Homo sapiens: one gene and its partners. The protein of the gene in region 2 interacts with the protein of the main gene of each other region in a pairwise test. Each region holds a gene or a part of one and is shown on either strand. Other genes may lie near its edges.

Region 1 (7,032 bases), on a different chromosome or scaffold from region 2:
TGGGGGTCTCATTATGTTTACCAGGCTGGTCTCAAACTCCTGGGCTCAAGCAATCTTCCTGCCTTGTACTCCTGAGGTGTTGGGATTACAGATGTGAGCCATGGCATCCAGCCTTTGCTGTTATTTTTTTCCCCTAAATAAGATCTCCTACAGGTTAGTGGCAAAGTTAATTCAATGGGAGCAAGTCAAAGGAGAAGTAAAGAGCATGGGAATACAACATAAAGAGAAACAGGAACCAAAATATATAAATTTACCGTAAGTGTTCTCACTGTTTGAGCAAGATCCTATAATAAATTAAACTACACTATTTTCTCTATGTAAGATATAATTGCTACCAAGATAAATAAGATTAATGGATTGGGGAAAATAATTATACTTTTAAATGATAATTAGGCTTAATTATACACAAGTTGGTGTTATGAAAAAGCTATTGTCCAGGCACGGTGGCTCACGCCTGTAATCCCAGCACTTTGGGAGGCCAAGGTAGGCAGATCACCTGAGGTCAGGAGTTTGAGACCAGCTTGGCCAACATGGCAAAACCTCATCTCTACCAAAAATACAAAAATTAGCTAGGCGTGGTGGTGAGCACCTGTAATCCCAGCTACTCTGTAAGCTGAGGCAGGAGAATCGCTTGAACTCGGGATCCAGCCTAGGTGACAGAGCGAGACTCTGTCTCAAAAAAATAAATAAATAAAAAATAAAAAGCTATTAATAGTTTACTTCCTAAGGGTAAGTAATCTATTTCTAAGAAACATTATGCTCACGTTCATCAAATTAAGCTCCCTTTATCAATGGATTAAAGCTAAATTATAAAAGAATACTCATTGTAATTAAAAGCACATATGCATATTTAGAAATCAGATTAAAAAGTAATAAATCACATTACTTACCTGGCTTTGAGGGAGATAGTTTCCTACTTAAACATCAACATTTTTATGTGCAACATCTGGAACACTGGTTTTCAAACTTTGTACTGCAAAATTCTAGTGAAGGGGTTCTAAGAATTCCGTGAATATTTTTATATTGAAACTAACAAAATGCAACACATACTACTAAACATTAACATATGTGCTAATGAACACATCACATAACCGATGTTTAACGTGTTAATTTGTGCTATCAGATTTCATCCAAACCTTAGAACAAAGCTCTTTGATATATCTGTTTACTGCAATCAAAAATAATATAAAGAACAAGATCAGATATTGGTATAAGATTATAACCATTAACTAAGGCCACAATAGAAAATGTCTGTATTCATCAACATAGCTTCATGGTTCTCACCATAAAGGTGAGTTTATATGTTGGTTCTCACCATGAGGTGAGTGTGTGTGCACTGAACACAAGTAACTGATGACAATTTAAATCCATAAGCTAAAACACTAATGCTATTTTCAATCTGCTCATATTTTACTATCTACTGATTAAAAAAAAAAGAGTTTGAAAACCAGTGGTCTGGAGATTCAAGATTTTTTCATGATACCTGAGACATTTTACTCTGGATTTAGATATTTGAGCTAAACTTTGATGTGAGTCATAAGCCTTAGCCCGGGTTGTCAGGAGTTTCTGCAATTCTTTCATTCTTTGCTTCTGTTTAGTTAGGATCCGATTTCTCTCTTCTTCCAACATTTTCTTTTCCTCAAGTGATCTCCTGAGGGTAACAAACTAAGGCTTAATCCACTTTAAGCCAATCAGAATGTTGTTTAGCAAAGATTTAACATGGGATAATTTGAATTTTGATAATTCAAAATTTGAAAAAAGGTAACCTTTTGAAAAGGATCTGACCTGTAAAACTAGAAATATTTATTTATTTATTTATTTATTTATTTATTTATTTATTTTTTTTGAGATGGAGTCTCGCTCTGTCGCCCAGGCTGGAGTGCCATGGCGTGATCTCGGCTCACTGCAACCTCTGCCTCCTGGATTCAAGCGATTCTCCTGCCTCAGCCTCCTGAGTAGCTGGGATTACAGGCACCCGCCACCACGCCCAGCTAATTTTTTGTATTTTTAGTAGAGATGGGGGTTTCATTATCTCGGCCAGGGTGGTCTTGAACTCCTGACCTTGTGATCCACCTGCCTCGACCTCCCAAAGCACTGGGATTACAGGTGTAAGCCACTGTGCCCAGCCAGGTAAAACTAGAAATCTTAAGACTATTATTTTCTAATCCCCCAAAATTTATAAATGAAAAATATATTCATTTCTTAGAATACCCTCTGACAAAATATCATATATTATATAGTAAAATATCTTATAGATACAATAATAATTTCTAAGTATTTTCAAATTTACCAACATAAACTCCACAGAGCTGCATACACTCATCTGGCAACCATGAGTCAGTCAGTACTGCGTCCTACTTACTTACCTTACGGCTTGTTCTCGTCCTCTGGAAGATACCGTGGGCACGGGAGGGTTGCAGTTACAAGGCACAGGGTTTACACCTGCACATCTTACTGGTGACTTACGCCTTGGAGACAAATAAGGCCAACGTGTTTCTTTTAAATTTTCTTCATCTGCTTCGATGTCTGCCAAAATTTTTTCTCTTTTAATAGATGCATGTGGAGATGCATGAAGATCAAATGGTTTACACACTGTTAAGAGTTTTGGAGACTTGTGTTCTGAGAGGTGTTTCTGGTATCTCTCAGGAAGGTCCTCAAAATCAGGAGTTGGGCACCTAACCTTGTGTTTACACTTCAACTTTACAGCCTGTTCAGGACACCTGGGGTTCCTGCATCCACAAGCTGACCTACAAGGCAGAGGAGATGAGTTCTGTAAATGCTCCTGGGCTCTCAGCTGTGTCCTAAGGTTTCGATAGAGCTCTTCTTCTTTTAACTTGTCATTGGTAGTTGAACCATAAGTAGATCGAGGAATGGGTCTGGCTTTAAATCGATTTGTTTTCTTTTTATACTTAAGAAAGTCTCTCAGCTGCTTTTCCCGGGCTGCTCGCTTCTGTTCCTCCCTTGCTATAAATTTAAATGGCTTTTGTGAGGCCAAAAGAGCTTCTTTGCTTTTCTCCTTCAGAGACCTTCTCCGTTCTTCTTTTTGCTTGACTAAATCATGGTAAAGGGGGAGAAAGACAGATGCAGGAACTGGATTGGCTCGGAATTTCTTCTTATACTCTGGATCCTCTTCTTGTTTTTTGAGCGCTTTATGTACCATTTCGATATCTGATTTAGATTTCATGGACTCTTCTTTTTTCTTCTGTTCTCTTATCATCATTTGAAAAGGCTCCGGTACTGTAATTGTGGGCACCCATTCTTTTCGTTTCTTCCTTCTTTTTTCAGCTGCATGGAAGCCAGTATCTTTACAGCGAATATAATCCTCAACACAAAAGTCTGTCCACATATTGTTGATGAGCTCCTTAGCATAGGTCATCATTCTGTTTTTCCTAGGATACTCTTTTTCTAGGTTGGGTAACTCCTCTTCAGAGGAGGACACATACAAGGAGGAAGACTGGCCTAAATCAGGCTCTGAAAATGATGTCATTAATGAGACAGGGTGATAGGAGTTCTTTTCTGATACAGATCTAAATGAGAAGAATAACTATGTTATACTTTCAGTTGTATGTGACCAAATATAAAAATTAAGAGTTACATATTTTCTTTTTTTTTCTGAGACAGAGTCTCACTCTGTTGCCCAGGTTGGAGTGCAGTGGTGTGATATCGGCTCACTGCAACCTCCACCTCCCAGGTTCAAGCAATTCTCCTGTCTCAGCCTCCCGAGTAGCTGGGACTACAGGCTTGTGCCACCATGCTCAGCTAATTTTCTGCATTTTTAGTAGAGACAGGGTTTTACCAAGTTACCCAGGATGGTCTCAATCTCCTGACCTCGTGATCTGCCTGCCTCCGCCTCCCAAAGTGCTGAGATTACAGGCATGAGCCACTGTGCCCAGCCAAGAGTTACATATTTTCTAAGATCAGGGTATAATCAGAAGCGAGGAGCTGGACAGGGCTTGTAAGAATCATCACTTTTATTTGGAATAGAGCTGGGCAATGCCCATAAATTATCCACTTTGACTCCTTCATTTTACAGGGAAGGAACCTGAGATGGCAGAGGGTCCTTGTGTCTAACCTCTATTAAATTCTCCCCACTTTCCAGAGTCACTGTCCTGAAGCATAGATCTGATCATGTCATTCCCCTGCTTGAAACTTTTTGATAATTCCTCACTGCTACGAAGTCAAGCCTAGATTACAAGCCCTTCGAGACTGGCGCCTATCTTTTCAGTCTTACCCCTCACCACTGGCTACCCCAGTCTCCATTCTGCATTCATATCCAGTCCTGTGAAGTTCCTCACACACGATATGATTTCTCATGCCATCTTGCCTTTGCATACATGGTTTCTGCTGCCTAGAAGGCCAATACTTATTCCTCCTCCAAGACTGAACTCAGATGTGACACTTTAGTGGAAAATTCTGGCCTGCATCCCTCTGAAAGCTTGGCATGACCAACTGCTTCTTCCTCTGTAACACTCTGTTACATCATGCTGTAATGCAATTTTTGGTTCTCAGCTAGTCTCTAAGCTCCTTGAGGGCATCTTGTTTTTGACTCCTCAGCGCCCAGGCATAGTCTGGCACAAAGGAGACATGCAAGCATCGCTGACTGACTAGATGTGTAAGTCTCAGAGCAGGTGAGTTCACAGCAGAAATGGGTCTTGAAATTGCAGACTATTTTGAAAACATAAATCAGATTCATGTCTCCTAGTCCTGAACTCTTTGTACTAGATCTTTAATGAGCTCATGTTAATCCACATATTATAAAGAGCTTTTAAAATTAAACTTTTATATTTACCAGTTAAAATGGCACAGACTAAGTATTTTGATACATGCCCTCAGTTCTATGGGTGGGTCAGAAAGAAAAGACCAAATGGCCACCAAATGACCCTCAAGCAAACGGTCATCCAGTAAGCTGATAAGCCATTAAACATTTTGAATAAAATCCTACCTCTGTATATCGTTGGGAGTACAAAGGGCTATTTAAGAGAAAATATTATGAAGTAACTTTGTTCTGTCCTTTTAAGGATACATTTTATTTTATACTCCACAAATAACATTGAGTTACAAGCTTACCTGGAAGAGTCACTAAGAGAGTCTTCTCTGATGACCACTGGCTGAACTTCCTTTAAATGTAATTTATCCTGGTACATTTTCTCTAATTTTGCCATAGTTTCTATGTGGGCAGCCTTCAACTCTTCTACTTTCTTGAAATACTCCTCATTAGAGTGGTGAATATCAGGAAAGTTCACAAAGTCCTCATAGCTTATCGGTGCATGTTCATCCACCCCAGAAAAGCTGGTGTTCAAATCAGCCTGGTGGGGAGAAAACACTTGATATATAGTGACTGGAGCTGAAAGACAAATTAAGCTGACACTGATCCAAAATGCTGCTTCTTAAAGAGTCCACCTAGTTAGGTTATACATTAATTATGGGCTATGCATATAGAATGAGTTATAGGTTATTTGTGGGCTATGTACATTTTCCCCAGTGATATTTTAAGAACGAGAGGGAGCAAGACCAAACTGTCAGAAAATAAATGTTATTTAATCCATTTGATAAAGGATGGTTCAATTCCCAGATCAACCAACAAAAGGTATAATAGGATAGAACCCAACAACCCTTTACAAAGTATTTCTATAAGGAGCCTCCTGAGTTGTAAGTTTTAACTGAGATGAAGAGGAACACGGTTCTACCTGCTGTAAACCAGGCAACCACAGCCCAATGCTCTCCCTCCAGCTGCGCTCCTGCAGTGTGGCTCCAAGGACTGCCAGTGGAGAGAAGGCAGGGAAATAGAGGAAATGGGGGCAGGGACAAAGTTCTCAGTGGCTTATCAAGGAGCCAGGGAGAAGCCCTCCTCACAGTGGGGCAAGACTTTGGGAGGGAGTAAGAGGACATGGGAGGGGGTAGGAGGGACTTTCAGGGTAGCTGCTTCTGTGGGCACAAAAGCAGTAGCTCCCATGGGTGACCGGGACTTTAGGATGACAACAAAGCAAAGAAGAAAAAATGCTGTAATTATTCAACATACAGATCATGTTTAGAAGGGTCTGACTGGCCTTTCTCCCTCACTCCCTTTACATACCTTTCAGTTTTTTTGTTTGTTTGTTTGTTTTTACGAGACGGAGTCTCACTCTGTCACTCAGGCTGGAGTGCAGTGGCACCATCTCAGCTCACTGCAACCTCTGCCTTCTCCTGCCTCAGACTCCCAAGTAGCTGGGATTACAGGCGCACACCACCACACCCAGCTAATTTTTGTATTTTAGTAGAGACGGGGTTTCACCATGTTGGCCAGACTGGTCTTGAATTCTTGACCTCAGGTGATCTACTCGCCTCGGCCTCTCAAAGTGCTGGGATTATGGGCATGAGCCACCGTGCCCTACCCTTTCAGTTCTTTTAATTGAAGCAACTAAAGAGATAAAACCCCATTTTCTCCATAAATATAAAATTTTTATTATGTTCTCAGTTGAGAAACAGTTGAAATTATTTATGATACTATGCATAAAAGGCTGCCAACCACAGTTTTAAATTTAGCCTACTGTCTGGAACAGATGCAAAATGAAAAAATTTGCTACAGAAAATTATAGATCCAATCTGATAAGACTCTAGAAAATAATCTGTTTAGCTTCTCTCAAAATAAAAATTCAGAAGAGTCAATTATAAATAGTAGTTATAGATGTGGTATTTTTGTTTCCCACTGGAGGCTTCTCAGAAGATATGGTATTTTTTTTAATACGCTAAAATCAGCATACAAGAGGACAATGTTGTACTACTTGGGGTAACTTAAAGAAAACAACTTTTAAAAAATCAGTCTTCAGAGGCCGGGCACGGTGGCTCACGCCTATAATCCCAGCACTTTGGGAGGCCGAGGCAGGTGGATCACGAGGTCAGGAGATTGAGACAATCCTGGCTAACATGGCAAAACCCCATCTCTACTAAAAATACAAAAAATTAGCCAGGTGTGCTGGCGGGCACCTATATTCCCAGCTACTCGGGAGGCTGCAGCAGGAGAATGGCGTGAACCTGGGAGGCAGAGCTTGCAGT
Region 2 (7,657 bases):
CTGAGGCAGGAGAATCACTTGAACCCAGGAGGCGGAGGTTGCAGTGAGCTGAGATCACGCCACTGCACTCCAGCCTGGGTGACACAGCAAGACTCCTTTCAAAAAAAAAAAAAAAAGTCAAAAACCTTGAAGCATGAAAACCTTCATGTCTTTCGTGAAGAATCTGGTCTAAAGATATTTTTTATTGGAATGTGGTGTTGGAAAGGAAGAAAAGTCAGTGAAGGAAATTGTAAGGTAACAGTTCTGACTGAAAACCTAAATCCTTCGTCATCACTACAGGGATACAAACCCCAACACTACTCTGCTGCTGAATGGACTCAGTGGCACGATCATGTTTCACTGCAACCTCCGCCTCCTGGCTTCAAGCGATTCTCCTGTCTCAGCCTCCCAAATAGCTGGGACTACAGGCACATGCCACCATGCCTGGCTAGTTTTTGTAGATCTATATTTTTGTAGAGACAGGGTTTTGCCATGCTGGCCAGGCTGGTCTCGAACTCCTGACCTCAAGTGATCCACCCGCCTTGGACTCCCAAAGTGCTGGGATTACAGGCATGAGCCACCATGCCTGGCCATGGACTCAGTCATTTTAATGAGCAGATTTTACTTCTCAAGTTTAATGACCAAGAGATGAAAACTGCTGAGAAATATATAAAATATTGAAACTAACGTGGTCATTAAACTTGAGAAGGGCAGCACGGTAGACTGGAAAAGGGCAAAACAAATGATCCTGAGGCACCCACACATATACAGGAAGTCCCCAAATGGGCCGTGATACATTTTCAGTCCTCTGGGAATCTGAAAAGAGCAAAAACTGGGGACCTACAGAGAAATGCTGTGGAGAGAGTAGGAAGGACTTCAGGGAGCTGCCATTCTGTCAGATCAAATTAAAAGCATGTTCAAAGACAGAATCCTCTTGAGCCCCTTGCTCTCCTCCCTACCATCTACTCTAGAAAGCTGGTGGCCAACAGAGCAGGCAGCTGTGGTGCCTGCTCCAGGCACCAAGACAACTGAAGATGCTGCTGTGAACACAGAAGAGGTAACAGCCATGCTGCTTGATTCAGGCTCCCCACTGCTTGCCAGGGTTACATCCTAGAAGATCCTAGAAGATCTGGACCACAAAAAAGCCACCCGCCCACATCTGGCTCTGCATAGGGGTACATCTCATTGTCATTGCAGCCTTCCTGGTCAAAGCTGTCTTCTAGGGAAGTGGGGGACAGGGATTATCACCAGCTGGATAATGAGGAAGAAGGGGCAAGCTCTGTTGCTTCAGAGTTGCACGTTTCCTCCTAATACCCACTAGTGTTTTGACAAACTGTGCCTTATGGGACACCAGGTCAACACTGCATGACTGCCACCCAACCAGAAATGCTGTCGTGGTGAAAAGGGGAAGCCCCAGCACTCTCAGTGGGGTAGATAACAATAGACTATGACAAGGAGACGCATTTGCAAAATTTTCCTTTGAAAACGTAATGTAATAATTTATAACTACACTAGTGATTTTTTTTCCTATTCTCCTGGTTTGCAAATGGCTGGACAAATCCACAGGAAAGAAATTATTTTAATTATCACCTGATGATTTTATTTCCTGCTTTGAACCACTTAGTCCCTTCCAGGTCTCCTTGCACTCAATAGTGTTAGAATGCTCTACTTGTGTTCACTTCAGAAAATGTCCCCTAAACTCTTTTTTTTTAAGAGATGGGATCTCACTTTGTCACCCAGGCTCCAGTGAGGTGGCACAGTCATAGCTCACTATGGCCTCGAACTCCTGGGCTCAAGTGATCCTCCTGCCTCAGCCTCCCAAGTAGCTGGGACTACAGGTGGGTGCCACCACCCCTAGCTCATTGAAAAAGTTTAGAAGTTTGAACTTGTACAGATAGCTGAGTTTCTTGGGTGTGACCTATTTAAACCAGGTCATTTTTAAATGCTCTTTCAAAGTCTGATTTTATTAATAAATGAAATCATCCCATCATAAGGGAAACAATGAGAAATCTATGAAGGGAAAACATATCCATTAATATGAGGCACCCTGAAAATTAAACTGTTTGGTGGAAGGAACAACCATCACTTTCAATTTCTTTTTAAAGCAACTTCCAGAGAATAAGCTATGTTAAGTAAAATCAAAACAGGAAAAGCCACATCTAGGTGGATTTCAAACGAAATGATACCTCTCTGAAAAAAAAGCAAAAACAAAACCTTAATGCCTGGTGAAGTTTGAGGGGGGTCTCATAATCACAGAGCCATCAGGAAGCGGCTAGAAACAATGAAGCAGGGTTTCAAAATGACTGGTACAGGATGTACCCATAGAAAGAAATGTTGCGCGCACTGGTGGAGCTGCCAAAGTTACTACTGCAAAGTACCCTGAACTTTTAAAGCGTGGCTTGGGGTCACTCTGACCACACTCTTTCCAATCTGGTCGCCTTGCAAACACGCTAGGATAATTGGCGGGAGGGGGGAGGGGAGAGATGCGCGGACCAGTGAGCTGGCGGGGGTTGGGGGAGAAGCCGGCGGAGCTCTCGGGTCGCTAGCAACATTAAGGTTTCGCTTTCGTCCAAGGGCGGCGGGGGTGGGGGGGTAAGGGGGGCAACGAGATGGCAATGAACTTCCTCCCCCGAGAGACCCTGGCCTCGCGTCCGTGGGCGGCCAGATGCCTTCCCCTCCGCGGCCAGGCGGGGCAGGGGCGTGCTGCGGGAGGGGGCGGCCGCGACGCCCCGAGAGGAGCCAGCAGGGTGGCCAGGACGAAGCCCCAGGAAGCGCCTTACCTGTGCCGCGGCGCGCTCAGAGCCCGGGGCCGGGCCGGGACGCGCAGGTGCTTGGGGGCATCCTGGGGACGGCCTGGGCGGGCGGGGAGTCCATCGCACCCGGCTGGCTGCGCTCTTCCCGCCGCGGGGGGACGGGGAGGGGGCTCCCCTCGGCTCGGCGCCCGCCTCTTCTCCACCCAGCTGAGGACACAGCAGGTCCCGCGGCGGCGGCAGCAACAGGCACCGGCGGACGGTGGCGGCACCAGGAGCAGCAGCCGAAGAGGAGGAGGAGGAGGAGGAGGAAGAAGAGGAGGAGAAGGAGGAGGTGTCTGCGCGCGGCTCTGGTTTCCTCCTCCCAGCCTGGGCGAGCGCGCTGGAGGCGAGGGGAAGACAGGAGCCGGGATCTCCCCACTCGGTCCCCGGGGAGCTGGGAGGGGGACTCGGTGTCCTCCTCCTCCCCACTGCGCCGTGTGACTGTGCCTGGGCAGCACGGCCCGGACGGGCGAGTCACACGCGAGCAACAGCTGCTGCACTGCGGGTCCGCCGCGGCCTCCCTCCCCTCCTTGCCACCCCCCGCCCCCAAGCCCGCGGGCCATCCTCAGCCAGTGTCTGTGGGGGGAATAGGGGGGAAGTACTCGGGCCGCCGCCCCATCCAGACCCCTGCGCAGGATCTGGGCACAGCGTTTCCCTGGGGAGCCGGGGGCGCGGGGCCCCGCGCGTGATGCAGGCCCTCGTGGCGGGATGTACAGTCGCACACCCTGTCCTTGGCGGCCTATTTATAGCAGGTGGCACTGCCCGCCGCTTGCTCGGCCTGAGTGGCTCTCAGCAGGTGGCACTGCCTGCCCGCTCTCCGCGCTCCCGAAGGCGCCTCGCCTCATCTGCACCCTCCTCTTCTCCCTCCGAAACAGACGTGGTGGAAACTGCACACAACATGGGGGGCGGGGGCCGGGGGCGACCAAGCCACCTTGCTCTCCCCCGCCTTACCCCTTCTCCCCGTCCTTGGAGGATGGCAAGAGGTGAACTGAGGCACGGATGCCCTATGGGGCGCTGGCATGCGAGGCAGGAAAATCAGGGACTCTGGGAAACAACGAAGGCGAAGTGCCCTCCCGGGATTAAACACCAGGAAACTCCATTTCTAACCAATTGCGGGAGTGACGCAGAGCCTGGATTAGGCGCTTTTTCCTGCCCCGCGAGCCCGGCACACGCGCAGGAACACACACCACACGCACACGCACACCCCAGTGTGCATGCCCCGATCAGGTCTGGGGACATTCCCAGCGGTGATGTAGAGTGCAAGGAAAGACGCGGAGATGTGAAAAGCGGGACAGAGCTCGCTCCCTAAGACTAGGGGATGGCAGTGTGCAAAAAACAGGCGAAGCTCCCAGATCCCTATCCCACCAGGCACAGAGGCGCAACGTCACTCGCAGGGTGGGGAGAGGGATCTGAGAAAAGTAAGAAGCATCACATCCTCTCCAGAGAAGAGTCCGCAGGGAGGGGAGAGCCGGGTGCTCGGAGGAGGCAGTTCCAGACCCCCAGGTGGCATCTTTCTGGATTTTTTTACTTAATGTAGCTGGGGGTGGACTTTAGGGAAGTGGCTGAGCGTTTGAGCTGTACGGTTGGACTTGAATCCAAATCCCAGCAGGTGTGGTTTAGGCAAGGTGCTGGACCTCTGGTCTTCATTGTCTTACCTGCTAAATGGGACCAATACACACCTTACAGGATCTTTGTGAGGACAAAGCAGGAAAGTGTAAGTAAAGTGGCCAGTGCAGTGACACAGACGTACATGGTCCTCAACTAAAAGCAGCAGCTATTATCAATATTACTGTGGCCCAGGAGGCAAATAGAGGGCCAGGTTTCCTCATCGTACCAAGAGCAGTGTCTTCCTTGAAGCCCACTGAGCTTCTTGTAGGCTTTTAGATTAGGGCTGTCTTATGGCATTCCCTGATTTCCCTGGATGCTTACATCCAGGGGAGGTATTTTTAAGTGGACCCAAGAGTTTTATTCACAGCTTGACTTAAAACTCTCACAATAGTGGTAGCTATTCTTTACGGAGGAGTTAGTCGATTTGGGGTATTGTGCTAGATACTGTCCTTATATATTGTTGCTAATTTGCTCAAAAACTCTGCAGGGCAAAGATTGTTAAATCCATTTGACTAAGGAGAAAAGTAAGAGGTTAGTGCCTACAGGGTTAGTGGGTGCTGGAATCTCCAAGATCCAAAGCCCTTTATAATATACTTGCTCTCTGGCCACTGTGTAGCCCTCAGCTCATTCTTTGTCATTGAGTAGTTATTTGTGTGCATAGCCTCAACTCTTTTTTAAGAAATATACAGTCATAAATACTGTAATGAGTAGAATGTTAACTGGGTTATGGAAATTATTCTTTAGGTTACAAGACCAGGTAAACCAGTTAAACCATATTGTTATCACTTGGGTCATATCCCAAATTATTTCATGTTTTTACCTTCAACTCTGTTGTAGAACTCTCTCTCCCTGTCTGCAGTGACCTGCTGCACACATTTACCTCCAGAGTGCTAGGAGGTCGAGAAAGGTACACTAGCATTCATTTCATTGACACTGTAAACTGCTTTTTGTATGTAACCCACCAGAGGATGGTTGAAACTGTTACCTAACAACCCTGCTTGCCAGGCCCTGCTCCTGGGAAAAGGGGTCAGGCCAAGGGGAACAGAGATAATTTGCTGGGCTCTGCTTACAGAACATCCTGGCTAGAGCCCCCTCCCATCCTGCCACTCCACTACCTTTTCTTTCCCTCACTTGCTCACCTCCTCTACCCTCTCTTCACCCTTACCCCTAGTCCCAGAGTACAGGAAGGCTTAAGTACAGGTAGGCAGCCAGGCGGGGTGCCTAACCAGAATACAGATGTAGGAAGTCGATGGGTGGGGCCCAGATGCAGGCCCAGGCCTCATATCTCTCAAAGCATTGACATCCAGCAAGTTCCAGCTCAGAGATTTATAATTTAGTGGCAAATGACCATTTGCCTTGACCCTTACCTAGGTTAGGGAGAGGTCATGGCCTTGTGAGAAGCAGCAATTTCTGCATCACTTTTCCAGCTCCCAGGACAGCTAGCACCCTAAGAATGATGAGGAGGGATTTTACCATACTTTCAACTTCTGGGAAACAGAACTCCCTCTATAGTATGCAATAAGGATTGTTGAAATTCTTTTTAAAATCTATACAGCATTATCTTAGAAATTAGGGGACAGCTTGCTATCAATCTATTTGGCCTTAGGTTTTCTAGCAGTTGTAGAACAAATAGTAAAGGGGACTTTGAAGCAGATGGTGATACCTGGTATGGCAGGATGAAGACTGTCAAATGTGGTTGGGGAGATCCATACTGGCCCAGTGCAGAGTGCAGAAGTAAGAGCTCACCACTCAGCTCTTACCTGCAGGTGCCATTGCTCTAGGAGGGAAGTAGCTCCTTCCCCTTGATATGTGGCCACGTGACTCCCAGGAGAGCTGGTACACACCATGGTAGAAGCGTGGGCCAATGGGGCCTTGGTGATGGCAACAGAGAGCTCCCTCAAGGCCCAGGAAGGTGTTCTGTTGGTCCCTCTTTAAGTCACCGATAACAAAAGCAAGCAGAGAATAGGGCCAAATGCTCCAATGATTCTGCTTCAGCTTCTGATTCTTCTGACGGAGTATGACCCAGGAACACAAGGAGTGTGGAGCTCTTCACCACCATGGGCATTTAGCTGACATCAGCTATGGACCCATTGGCTCAGCGAGTGAAAACCCTGATGCGAAGGCACCGACCATCATGGCTGCTGCACTTTTCCTGTCTGGACAACTTCCGCACCTCCAGCTCTTCCCAAAATCCTGCCATGGATCATTCTTTTAGGGCTTCTCCCATAGACTCTTTCCTAATTTAGCTATTTGCAGCATAATTAGTTATTCATTGCCAAAAGCCAGGAACATTAATATCAGCTTTAAGATGGCTGCAGAGCTCTAGAAAATTGTGAACCATCGATGCTATTAAATCACATGAAAAGCTCAGAGCCTGAAAGAAAACAGAGGCCACTTTACTTTTAAAAAGTTAAGGGAACCATGGGAACCATATATACATCTAGAATTAAAATCTTTCGTTGATGTAGAAAGAAGACCTTTAACAAAATTAATCATCATTAAATCCATCAGTTAGGTATTTAAATGCTCATATTAGTTAGGAATCCAAACTATTGCTATTATATATTTTTACTTAAATTCAAAATGTGCATAATAAGGTAGTGGGTCCATTTCCAAAAAATGGCATCAATAAAGGCAAAAAATAAGACTATACTGGCTAGAACCCTAGGATAGTAAGGTGGTTCACTGGGTATGCTTGTTCCCATTGATTGATAGTGACTTTCTGGAGCCCTGAGTGGACGAGGCTTGTAAGGCAAGTCCATGCTCAGTGGGAAAGGGTGCAAGATTGAGAAGCAGCACCTGCCTCAAGCATGGGAGGAGGCAGCATTGCAACACCAGCGCCAGGTAATTTGCCAACCCTGTCAATCCAAGGCATAACAGTTAGATCTAAAGAGTTTGTGAAGGCTGGGGTGGTGGCTTATCCTATAATCCCAGCACTTTGGGAGGTTGAGGTGGGCTGATCACTTGAGCCCAGGAGTTGGAGATGAGCCTAGGCAACATGACAAAACCTCTATAAAAAAATACAAAAAAAAAAAACTTAGCTGGGCGTGGTGTTGCACACCTGTAGTTCAAGCTACCCAGGAGGCTGAGGTGGGAGGATGGTTTGAGCCCTGGAGGTTGAGGCTGCAGCAAGCTGTGATGACACCACCACACTCCAATCTGGGTGTTGGAGTGAGAAACTGTCTCTAAATAATAATAATAATAACATAGAGTCTGTTAAGTTATGCCCAAATATCTTGTTTTCTTTCTTTTCTTTCTTTCTTTTTCTCTTTCTCTTT
Region 3 (3,905 bases), on a different chromosome or scaffold from region 2:
TGGTGTCCTGAGGCCTCCAAGGACGGTCCCCACCCCTCTACGTTTCCCCAATAAAGCCTTTTAAAAACCTGCCTGCCTTCTCTGCTCACTGCCCGATGCCTTGCAGCCCCCTAGCTCTAAGGTGGCCCAGCAGGCTGGACAGCCCGGGAACTCACTGGGTCTGGCTCTCGGCTGTCCACACCCTCTTCCCCCCCGAATCTCCAGACCCGCAGGCCTTGGGTTCAAGTTCAGTGTCACAGAACCTGAGCTGGATTTTGTCCTCAGGGGTCACACCTGGCCTTGAGCCAGCCCCTCGGTTGAGGCTCGTGGGCTCACCAGCTGGCTCTCGGGGGGCCACACAGCGCCCTCCCTGTGTGTTCCCCGGCTAATGTCTAAAGTGCTCATGCCAGGTCCCAGCTGGACTCCCCTCGGTAGGGCCCCACCTTTTGTTACCTGAAAATGTCCTTAAAGCCTCCTCCATGTAAGAAACTGGCAGGCCTGGAGCCCCTCCCCCGTGGGGACCACCCTCCTTCCAGCAAAATGCCGGCCAAGCTCAAGGAGAAACAGCGTTTATTGTGGAGGGGAGCTGGGCGGGGCTCAGCCCTCGGAGAACTGGCAGTACAGCCGCCCCAGCCTCGGCTCCACCCATAGCCGGAACGGGATCTCCAGGATGGCAGAGAAGCCTTCAGCCAGCGTTGGGGCCTCGAACTGCTTCCTGGCAGTGGTGGGAACAGTGAGGGACAGCCTGGATCATGTGGCCCAGCCAGTGCCCCTGCCCCCTGCTATCCCCAACAGTACCTGTAGCCATACATGACCATGTCTGACACGGGGATATGAGAGGAGTCCGTCATCTCTCGAAACTGTGGGGAACATCAGAGGGGCGGCAGGCCCAGGGGTCAGGGGAGGAGGGGGGTCAGGGGGTGCAGCCCGGGGGGTGTCCGGGCTGAGCGGGCTCACCCGGTTGTTGTGGCGCGCCTGCTCCAGAGTGGCGGTGAAGAGGAAGCAGCGGCAGGGGACGCCCGCGGCTCGGGCACACTGGACGTACCTGTGGGGGAAGGAGCTGGATGTGCAGGCCCCGCCCACCCCGCCGCAGGCCACCTACGGCCCCGCGGTCACGCTACCTGGCGCGGCTCGCGGCGTCTGGGTTTGTGTTGTCGATGGCGACCCGTTTCCCTTGCTTCAGGGCTGTCTCACACGTGGTCACACAGCGCTGCCAGGAGCCTAGCGTGTCCTGGGGACACGAGAGGTCACAAACAGATCGGCAGACCCAGGGGGAGAGAAGACCCCGAGCGGGGACGGGGAGGCAATGATGGAGGAAAGCCGCCCCAAACCAGTTGAGAGGTGGAGATGGGAACTTTATAATAGATTTGGGGCGGCAAAAGCCTGGTCATACCCTGTTCACGTGGACATATCCGGCCGACACGAGGTGCTTCTTGAGAAAGGTGGACTTCCCGGCTGTGTGGGGGGCAGTGTCGGTGGGTGGCCTAGGACCCAGGCGGGGCTCAGGGCACGCGCACAGGAACAGGACACTTACCCCCAGGGAATCCCACTGCGACAACCACCTCCGGGCTGGCGCTCAGGAGGGCCCTGGACTCGGGGAGGCAGAGAGGCCCTGAGCGGGAGACAGTCCTCTGCGAGGGGCGGGGGACACGCGTGAGATGCCGTCCCCATCCCCGGGAGCCCTCCCATCCCCACCCCCACCCCCGCCCCAGGGCCTCACCGGATCAAAGGCTGGGAGCTCGAAGCCGGCTGCTGGCCACTTGAGAAAGAACTCCTCAGGCGTGGCGAAGGGCAGGCCAAGGTTGAGGGCAAACTAGGGGTTGAGGACGAACATCAGACACAGGCCAGGGTCGGGCTCGGGCGCGGGGCAGGGGGCAGGGGCCTCACCAGGCGATCGGCGCAGGAGAAGTCTTTCTTCTTCCGCCCCGGGGCCCAGTTGGCCGGGCGTCCGGCTGCGTCTGGAACACACGGGACACCCCGTTCCCACCAGCTCGGAGGGAGGCGTCCCAGCCCACCCTCAGCAGCCTCCAGGCCCTTACCTCCCACAAAGATGCTGTCCCCGATGGATATGGGCGTGCCGTCGTTGGCCTACGGGAGACGGTAGTGAGGAGGCCCTTCCCACAAATGTCCCCCCGCAGCGGTAGCGGGTCCCTGGGGCTGCTTCGCCTGGTCTGTGCCCCACATCAGGAATCATCCCCCGACCTTTCATGTCCTCACTCTCCAGCCACTTTGCACCGTGCTCCTGGCCCCCTCCCCCCTCCGTGGTCTCTCCACACAGCCCCCTCCCTCCAGGTCTCCCGACTTCACCTCCTCCCGTTCCCCACGCGGCCACCGGAGGGCACCCACCCTGCTACAGCTCCAGCCTCCGGCGTGCCGGCGCCTCCCAGGTTCCCCCTCCCTCAGGGCAAAAGCGGGGCCCTCCCTGTGGCCCTGCCCTCTCCCCTCCCTCGCTTAGAGCCAGCCGCATGGGCCTCGCTGTCCCTAACTAGCCCAGGCTAGGGACTGCCTCAGGGCCTTTGCACTTGCTGTCACTCCCACAAGGGGGGGGACCGCTTTCCCCAGGTGTCCACCTGGCTCCCTCCTTTCCCTGCCTTAGGCCTTTTCCTCTGATGTCACCTCCTCAGAGGCCATCCCTGCCCACCACGGGTGATGCCTGCTTTCTCCAGCTCCCTCCCTCCTGCTGTTTTACACGCCAGTCTGCCCATCCGCCTAGAGTCACCGCCCTCGCCGTGAGGGCCCTGCTGGAGCAGGCCGTCCCGCTCACTGATACCTTCAGCTCAAGAATGCGCTAAACTTCAGAACAAATGCACACACAAACGAATGAACGAAGGAATGAACAGCTTCCCTACTACTCTGATGTAGAAAGTCTGAAAGCACTGGTCTCGTAAACCAACATCTAAGATGTCACAGCAAAAAACAGAAGGAGGGAGCGAGAGAGGACAGAGGAGTAAGGAGGCCCCAACCGGAGGCCGGGGAGCCCAGGAGTGAGGGGCTGGAGTGAGGAAAAGGAGGGGGGCCGGGCAGGCTGCAAGACTCACCTGCTCCTGCAGATGGTCCCACATGCCCGTCACCGGCTTCCGGTACAAGCCTGCGTGCGTGGCCACCAGCACCTGTGGATGGGAGGGGGCCACCAGCTTTAGCTCCCCCTCAAGCACCTACTGGATGCCACCCCAGCCCAGAATTTGTAGCTGATGATGGGTTCCTATCAGCATCACACTGCCTGAGGCCTCCGCCCCGCTTACCCTGGAGTCTAAAGCCCTCGCTCTGGATCTCTGTGCCCCCACATAGCTCCCAGCCTCCCTTCCAGCCATACCTGGAAGGGGACCCCCAGCTTCTCCACCACAGCCTCCACCTTGGCCTTGAACTCCTCGGCTGGCAGCTTCCCGCGCCCGATGCTCATCTGGTTGGTGAAGATCACCAGCTGGGGAGCAAAGGGTGTCACCAGACGCTCTGCTCACCAGGGCCTTGGTCTGACTGCGGTCGGACCGCCACGTGCACGTGCCCATGCAGACAGGCGGCTGCACATACCTTGTAGCCCTCGGCTTCCAGCTCTCGGAGCTTACGGGGAATCTCTGGGTACAAGATCCTACGGCAGGTATGAAGCGGCAGGGGTGACCCGGGGCCAGAGGTGGACTCCAGGCCTCACTCACTCCCTTGTTTTGCCTCTTATCACCTCCAGTCACTGGGGCCAGTGGGAAAGACCTTCCCAGAGCGTGTGGTGATGAGCGTCCCGTCCAGATCAAAGCCAGCCACCTGGTGTCACCAAGGAAAGACAAACAGCAGCACTGTGATACCTCTGACCCTCCTCACTCACAGGCTGACTCACACCAACCCTGCCAGGCAGGGTGTTATCACTGCCATCTCACAGATGGGGAAACCGAGTCACAGAGCACCTCCATCTCAAGCATCCGTGATGCCTCTGAGTG
Region 4 (6,682 bases), on a different chromosome or scaffold from region 2:
TGCCGCCCAGGCCCAGCCGGACGGGGTCCCCAGAGGCAGGCTGGCTGGGGCAGGAGGGGCCACTTGGTGCCAGGCCCAATGTCATCTTTCTCATCTCACAGGCCCCATGAGTTGAGTGCTCACCAGCCCATCCCCTGCATTTCTGGGAAGTTAAGTGAGTTGAAGCTGAAATTGGCTCAGGGCCCTGAGACCACAACTCCCACAAGAACAGAGAAGGCAGCATGGGGACAAGCTGTCCTGAAGTGCCGAGAGGTCCCGAGCTGCCCATGCCTGAGGCGTTGGGGAGGACACTGCCCTGCACAGGACGCACACAAGACCCTCTCCCCACCTGCCCTCACAGGCAGAGCCGCCCCAGGTGATCTCTGAAGGTCAGCCAAGCTCCTCTCCTGGGGCTGACCCACCAGGGCCAAACCCAAGCACTGCCCAACCCCAGGGAGGGGCCTTGTCCACAGCAGTGGAAACGGGTCAAACATGGGGGACAGGGGCCCACCAGGAGTAACGGCTGAGGAGAACAAGATGGCAAAAAGAAACATTTAATAATGAGGGGGAAAGGGCAGAAAGGTGCAATCCAGGCAGGCAGGTTGAGGGCAGGACATGCCGCCTTCTAGGGTCTCCAGAGAAGCTGTGTCAACGGAGGACGTGGGCCGGGGAGGGCCCAAGGCTGCAGCACATCTACACGAGGGGTCAGCAGAACTGCGAGAAAGGGGGTGAGGCCTCCAGCCTTGTGGCCACATGAGATCCCCCAGAGTGGAAGGCCGCACAGGCTCACCCAAGGCTGGGCTCTCCACCCACCATGCCCAAGACTCCCAGGAGGCTGGTTGGGCAGGGCCATCCCCAGTTCACACCACAGACCCCACAGAGGCTGAGACACCCCACCTCCAGAGAATGGAGCTGGGAGGGGCAGCCTGAGCCTGCTCACCCACCTTCCAGCGGTTTCCACACTCGTTGCAGACAACAAAGGTGGTCATGGGCTCATCAGAGCTGCGGGTCTGCACCTGTGAACAGGGCTGGGTGAACCCAGGGTCACCTCCATGCTCCGCTGCAGACGGCATCCCCTCAACATGGGCAGTGCGGGCCTCGCAGCCACTGAGCTCCCACAGGTGACCTGATCCGAGGCCGCCTCGTGACTCCAACCTTCCAAAGCTGAGCCTCCGGGGGAGGGAGACAGAGTTTATCGGGGCAGAGGCCCTTGTGTGAGCCTGAAGCAGCTCACATTGGCTGGGGACCAGGAGGGCCCAGACTTGGCTGAGGGCAAGAGGGTCCCAATGGTGGGGGGAACTAGCAGGGGTCCCCAGTGCCCGCGGCTGCCTTCCGGAAGGCCCAAGGGTGAGCCTCCGGCCACAGGCAGAGCCTGTTCTGACCAGTGGCTGGGAGCAGGAGAGAGGCAGGCTCTGCACCGACCCAGGCCCCATGCAGCCTTCGAGGGGAAGGAAAGGCTGTCCTTGCAGCCCCTCACGAGTCCCATCTGCCAGGTGCAGCGGCCGCCTCGACACACTCCCCTCTTTTTTTTTTTTTTAAAGACGGAGTCTCGCTCTGTCGCCCAGGCTGGAGAGCAGTGGCACGATCTGGACTCACTGCAACCTCTGTCTCCCGGGTTCAAGTGATTCTCCTGCCTCAGCCTCCTGAGTAGCTGGGATTACAGGCATGCGCCACCACGCCCAGCTAATTTTTGTATTTTTAGTAGAGACGGGGTTTCACCATGTTGGTCAGGCTGGTCTCGAACTCCTGACCTCATTATCCGCCTGCCTCGGCCTCCCAAAGTGCTGGGATTACAGATGTGAGCCACTGCACCCAGCCGCACTCCCCTCTTAACAGGGTCCCTGCCATCTCATGGGATCCACAGTCTCCCCAGCACACTCAGTGTCCACCTCCATGGCAGGGACTGAGGGTCCTGCAGTCACTGCCAGGCAGCAGGCAGCACGGCCCTCCCACCAACATCAACACCTCGAGGGCCCTCCGTTCAGGCTGGGCTGGGCCAGGCCAGGCCCTCTGACTTGAGTATCCGCAACAAGTGGGTCCCACCACCCAAGACGCCGCCCCGTGGAGCCCAGAGGTCCTGGGTAGAGGGGAGTGGTCCCTGAAGGTGGCCATCATGCCTTAGCCTACTCAGGGACTGAGAGGCTCGGGAAATTCATGCAGCAGAGGCGGGAATAGGCATGGGCTCCAAGGAGGGGCACCAGATGCCCTGAAGACACCGGGCCCGGGGGAGGGTGCCCAGCGGCCGCTCACCTGTGTGTAGGTGCAGTTCTTTTTCCTGCACTTGCCGCAGGTGAACAGGTCTGTCTGCGTGCCGCCAGTGCGGGCCATCTGGTGCTCTCGGATGGCCTCCTTGGTCATGGCCTTACGGATCTCCTTCAGCTCATCACTGGCCATCTCCTGGAGCACGGGGCCAGTGGCTTAGCCCACCGCTCCGAGGGAGCAGCCCTCCAGCCCCTCCAACAGGGGCTCACCTCTGAGGTCATCACAGCGATCTGCTGGGGTGTTATGGCCCCACACAGCACATTCCGCCGCAGGTCAGGGTTCTTGGCATCCTTCAGGTTGGAGATACGACTCCGTACACGGTTCTTATACTTCATGTCTGTGTTTCCAACGTCCCGGAAGATGCGTGCAAGTGTTTTAAGGACCCACCTGAGGACAACGTCGCTGCCCTCCACCTACCACCTGCCCCGCTGGGGGCCATGTTGGGGTGGGGGCTGGAAAGGTTCTGCCCAGCCACACAGGGGTCGGTCTGCCCACCCACACCTGGTGGAGAGGTGAAGGGCTGCAGGGCCAAGCCTGCCCCAGGCCCATTCCTGACTGAGACCCAGCTTCAGGCTACAGCCCCAGGGGACCTAGGCCCCACAAGCAGACAGAATCAGCCCTTCAGCTGGTCCGGGGGCCCTCCTGAGGTGAGACAGCCTGACCACCCAGGCAGGTGACCACCCAGGCAGGTGACCCCTGGACAGCTGGGCAGTGGCATCCAGCAGCCACCAGAGGGCACCAGGCCAGGCAGCCTCCTGACTCCACCAGAAACCCAGGCCCACAGCCCCTACCCAAAGGATATATTCCTCGATCTGAGCCGACAGGCGCTCGCAGTCCGCACCGATGGCCACGTGGTCATCTGCAAGAGGGAGCCCTGACTAGCTTCCCCCACTGGTTTCTCCACCTGCCACCCCTTCTGCCTGCAAAACACCCTGGCAGCTTAGAGGGCACATCCGGGTCCCTGCAAGAGGCCCACGATCCAGGCACAGGCCCCTAGCCCCTGCCAGGGCCACAGCAATGGGCTGGGGGAGGACAGTCACCCCGCTGGAAGCAGGCCTCTGCGGGCAGGCAGGGGCCCGGGCCACCCTGTGAACCACAGCGGGTGTCAGGAGCCAGGGCCGGCCGCACTCACGGTCCGTCTGCAGGGCAGCGGTCAGCATCTCGCGGCACTTGTTGCGCACGGCATCACAGGTGACAGGCACCGGAGGAAATGTGGTGATCCTCGGAGTCGACGGTGCCCTGGGCAGCTCCGGCCTCTTGCGGCTGCAGAGAGCCAGGGCCAGCTGGGTTCAGACTCAAGGCTGCAGGCACCCCAGCGAGACACTGGTCCTAGAAGCAGCAGGTGCCACAGCATAATCCCCCACCAACCCCTGCTTGTTCTACTCTGCCAGAGTCCAACAGTGGCCTGTGGCCCTGCCTATCTTGAGTCCAGCCCAGATGTCCATGGGGTGTGCCCAGCAGCCAGGAGGGAGAGGGCCATGAGGTCCCCAGTGGGTCAGGGTGTACTCTCCAGGTGGGAACAGGATCCCAGACCCAGCAGTCAGCATCTGGGCAGCATTACCAGTCGATCAGAATGAACCTGGCAGTTCCTGCCACCTCTGGGGTGCCCACCCACTGGGCCGCAACACAAATACTCTGCTGAGGGCAGCTGCAGCTGCTGCCTGGTCAGGGAGAGGGAGAGACCCACAGCTGTCTGGGGGGAGACAAGGCGGGGCCGCCCAAGGCCAGGTTCTGCTGTCACAGACGACACCCCTGGGCACGTACAGAATGGGAGAAGGATGCCCCTCAGGGCTGGACCCCAACATGGGGCTGCCCAACGACCAGGCTGCATCCACCTAGCCCTCCCCTCATCCCCTCTGTGGAAGTTGGCAGAAGCAGGCAGCTTCCTGGAGGAAAATCAACTTGCAAAGGTGTCCCTGAGCTCCTGGTGGCCCAGTCACCACAACCCAGTGTGGTCAAGGGCAAAGCCATCTCTCGGCTATAGCCTGCCACAATAAGCACCCCCAGCTCCCAGCTGCAGGCCACAGAGCCCTTATCACCCCCTGGCAGCAGTGACCACACGTGCACATGCAGGGCAGGAGGGGAGTTGGCCCCCGCCTTTGGTTCTGGGCAGAATTTTGCAGGAAGGAGGGACCGTCGTTGAGTGAGGCTGAGGGGGAAGCCAGAGTGGGCCAGCAAGAACCAGACCCAGCAGGGGGCCTTGGGGGAAGAGGCCAGGGGGCTCCCACAGGCCCACTCAGGGTATACAGCAGCTCTTGGCAGAGGAAGAGGCCAGGATGGCTGGCTGACAGCCAGGTGGACACAGACCCACATCTCAAGTGGTCAGTGCAGGCGGGACACACCACAAGGCTGGTGTCCAGCATGAGGCTGACCGACTCTGTGTGCAGCCTCAAAGCAGTGCCTAGGCACATGGAGACTGGCACCCTTTCTCTGGCAAGGAAACAGGCTGGGAAGCAGAAGTGTGTGCACCTGCCTTCCAGGTGTGCTACCTGGGATCCGGGGCCTCTGAGGCATCCCTCGAGGACGTGGGCAGAGGCATGCCCCTCCCCCGCTCCCTGGCTTTGGCATCGGAAGCATCTGCAGGAAAGATCGGGGATGGGCTGATCAAGGGGAGGCAGAGGAGGGAGGGGCACAGACCACCACCAAGGTACAGCCTCAGCCCGACCACCAACACGGCCCCAGCCCCAGCCCCCGCCCCCAGCCCCTCACCCAGCCAGGGGAGCCAGGGGCCAGGAGGCTGCCCAGCCTCTGTGAACAGGTCCTCACCCTCCCCAGCAACCTGTCCATCTCTGCAGTCCTGAGGCTGCCTCCCCAGAACCCTTTCCCGTACAAGCACCCACTCACAAAGGCCACCTCTGGGGCCTCTCTGGGGCCCACCCTCCTGCCTGTCCTGGCCAGAGAGACCAAGCATGTCCCCAAGAAGGCTCTTCCTGAAAGCCCAGAGCCAGGCCCAAGGGCTGGGGACCAGGACATGCTTGTGCCATGCACAGCCTGAGGGCCACACAGGGCTGGAGAGAGACTGTTTCACAAGGGTGTGGACAGAGCTAGGAGGGTTGCCTCCATCCCAGACAGCAGCATCTTTGCAACCCCAGTCACCCCACTGTCTCCAGGAAGAGGCAGCCTTCAGTCCAGCCCAGCCCAGCCCAGCCCTTCCCTTCCCTGGCAGGGGGCTGCCCCTCTGTTCCCTCTGAGTAGCTGAGGTGGCCCTGCCTTCTCCCTCCCGCTTCCCCTCTCCCGGCACTTCCCAGCCTCCTGGCCATGACCTTCCCCTCTGTGTGACCTCCCAACTCACCCCAGTCTCTCAGTGCTGTCAGTTCAAGTCCTGGCCTCAACTCTCTTCTCTCCTTGTTCTACCTGGAACCCTGCCCCCAGCACACACCCTGGCCTCCTAGGCCACACCTCCCAGCCAATGCTGACAGGCACCCACTGATCCACTGCCAGCCCCAAGCTGGGCGCTTCATGGTCTGGGTTTGCCACTGCCCCACTCCCAAGCGACCTGGCTCAGGGTGGACACTGCCAGCACTCTACACTGTGCTGACCAGCAAGAGGCAGCACTTCTGGGACCCCTGCCCCAGCACTCAGTGGGCACCGCCTGAGCCGCACCCAGGAGCTTCTTCCAGGACTTGATGAGAGACTTGGCCAGTGCAATGACCTCCTCATCCGAGCTCTGCTTCCGAAGGGCGTTGACAGACATCCCGACTCGGGTGGACTACGAGGCAAGTGGTCTGGGTTGGGGGAGGCAGGGGCCCACCCTAGGGGTCAGATTCTCCTGGCAGAGCCTTGGTGGCCCCCACAGGACAGGAGCCCGGGACCTCCCAGGGAGGTAGAGGCCTCTCCCAATGGCGACTGTCCCATTTGGAACCCAGGAGCCTCAGCCACGGAGGACAAGATGGGTTATCCTCAGACTCCCCTCCCTGTCCCACTGAGCCCAGAGAAAGGCAGAGACCCTCTCCTCAGGAACAGGCATTTGTGCCAACTAAGGCCTGGTGGGGAGGGTGGGGAAGCCCTGCCAGGTGCCCTCAGAACTGCCATCCCCTGGGCTGCACCCAGGAGCTGTCCTGGACCTGGGGCAGGCAGGGACCTACCTGGAGCAGGTGCAGCGTGATAGGCATGGCCTTCAGCTCCCGCAGCAAATCCATGGCTCCCTCCTGGAAGGAGAAGGAGGACCTTCATAAAGGACTTTAGATCTCAACAGACAATATCACCTCCTTCTGCCTACTGGAGGAGAACACAAGGCAGTGACAATTTGGAGATTCAACCTGGGGTCAAAAAGAAACCAAAATTCCTCTACCTGGAGACACCCAGGGCTCTGCCCACATGTTCCTGCACCACAGCAGGGAACCCTTACTGCTCAGTCAAGAAGGGGAGGGGTTCTGCAGCCTCAAGCATTCCAAGTTGTAACCCACATCCGTGGCAATGACCTCACTGACTTCGTTGTAAC

What was found.
Region 1: the proteins of TBC1D1 (region 2) and FAM161A interact in binary tests that used the Homo sapiens proteins (3 or more experiments, as listed by UniProt).
Region 3: the proteins of TBC1D1 (region 2) and PNKP interact in binary tests that used the Homo sapiens proteins (3 or more experiments, as listed by UniProt).
Region 4: the proteins of TBC1D1 (region 2) and TCEA2 interact in binary tests that used the Homo sapiens proteins (3 or more experiments, as listed by UniProt).

Annotation. Positions count from the first base shown.
Region 1 is NC_000002.12:61,837,055-61,844,086, forward strand, and holds part of FAM161A (protein FAM161A), read right to left. Parts: intron 5,307-7,032; coding exon 5,068-5,306; intron 3,528-5,067; coding exon 2,367-3,527; intron 1,652-2,366; coding exon 1,484-1,651; exon of another isoform or gene 891-1,483; intron 1-890. UniProt on the Homo sapiens protein: Involved in ciliogenesis.
Region 2 is NC_000004.12:37,886,451-37,894,107, reverse strand, and holds the start of TBC1D1 (TBC1 domain family member 1), read right to left. Parts: upstream 3,025-7,657; 5' UTR 2,760-3,024; intron 1-2,759. UniProt on the Homo sapiens protein: May act as a GTPase-activating protein for Rab family protein(s). May play a role in the cell cycle and differentiation of various tissues.
Region 3 is NC_000019.10:49,860,672-49,864,576, forward strand, and holds the end of PNKP (bifunctional polynucleotide phosphatase/kinase), read right to left. Parts: intron 3,733-3,905; coding exon 3,653-3,732; intron 3,566-3,652; coding exon 3,508-3,565; intron 3,401-3,507; coding exon 3,293-3,400; intron 3,090-3,292; coding exon 3,018-3,089; intron 2,068-3,017; coding exon 2,019-2,067; intron 1,938-2,018; coding exon 1,867-1,937; intron 1,793-1,866; coding exon 1,700-1,792; intron 1,611-1,699; coding exon 1,514-1,610; intron 1,435-1,513; coding exon 1,373-1,434; intron 1,211-1,372; coding exon 1,101-1,210; intron 1,025-1,100; coding exon 937-1,024; intron 840-936; coding exon 778-839; intron 695-777; coding exon 577-694; 3' UTR 533-576; downstream 1-532. UniProt on the Homo sapiens protein: Plays a key role in the repair of DNA damage, functioning as part of both the non-homologous end-joining (NHEJ) and base excision repair (BER) pathways.
Region 4 is NC_000020.11:64,066,183-64,072,864, reverse strand, and holds the end of TCEA2 (transcription elongation factor A protein 2), read right to left. Parts: intron 6,619-6,682; exon of another isoform or gene 6,533-6,618; intron 6,460-6,532; exon of another isoform or gene 6,390-6,459; coding exon 6,327-6,389; intron 5,951-6,326; coding exon 5,845-5,950; intron 4,819-5,844; coding exon 4,731-4,818; intron 3,505-4,730; coding exon 3,374-3,504; intron 3,101-3,373; coding exon 3,044-3,100; intron 2,606-3,043; coding exon 2,451-2,605; intron 2,377-2,450; coding exon 2,230-2,376; intron 996-2,229; coding exon 924-995; coding exon of another isoform or gene 840-923; exon of another isoform or gene 694-839; coding exon 685-693; 3' UTR 518-684; downstream 1-517. UniProt on the Homo sapiens protein: Necessary for efficient RNA polymerase II transcription elongation past template-encoded arresting sites.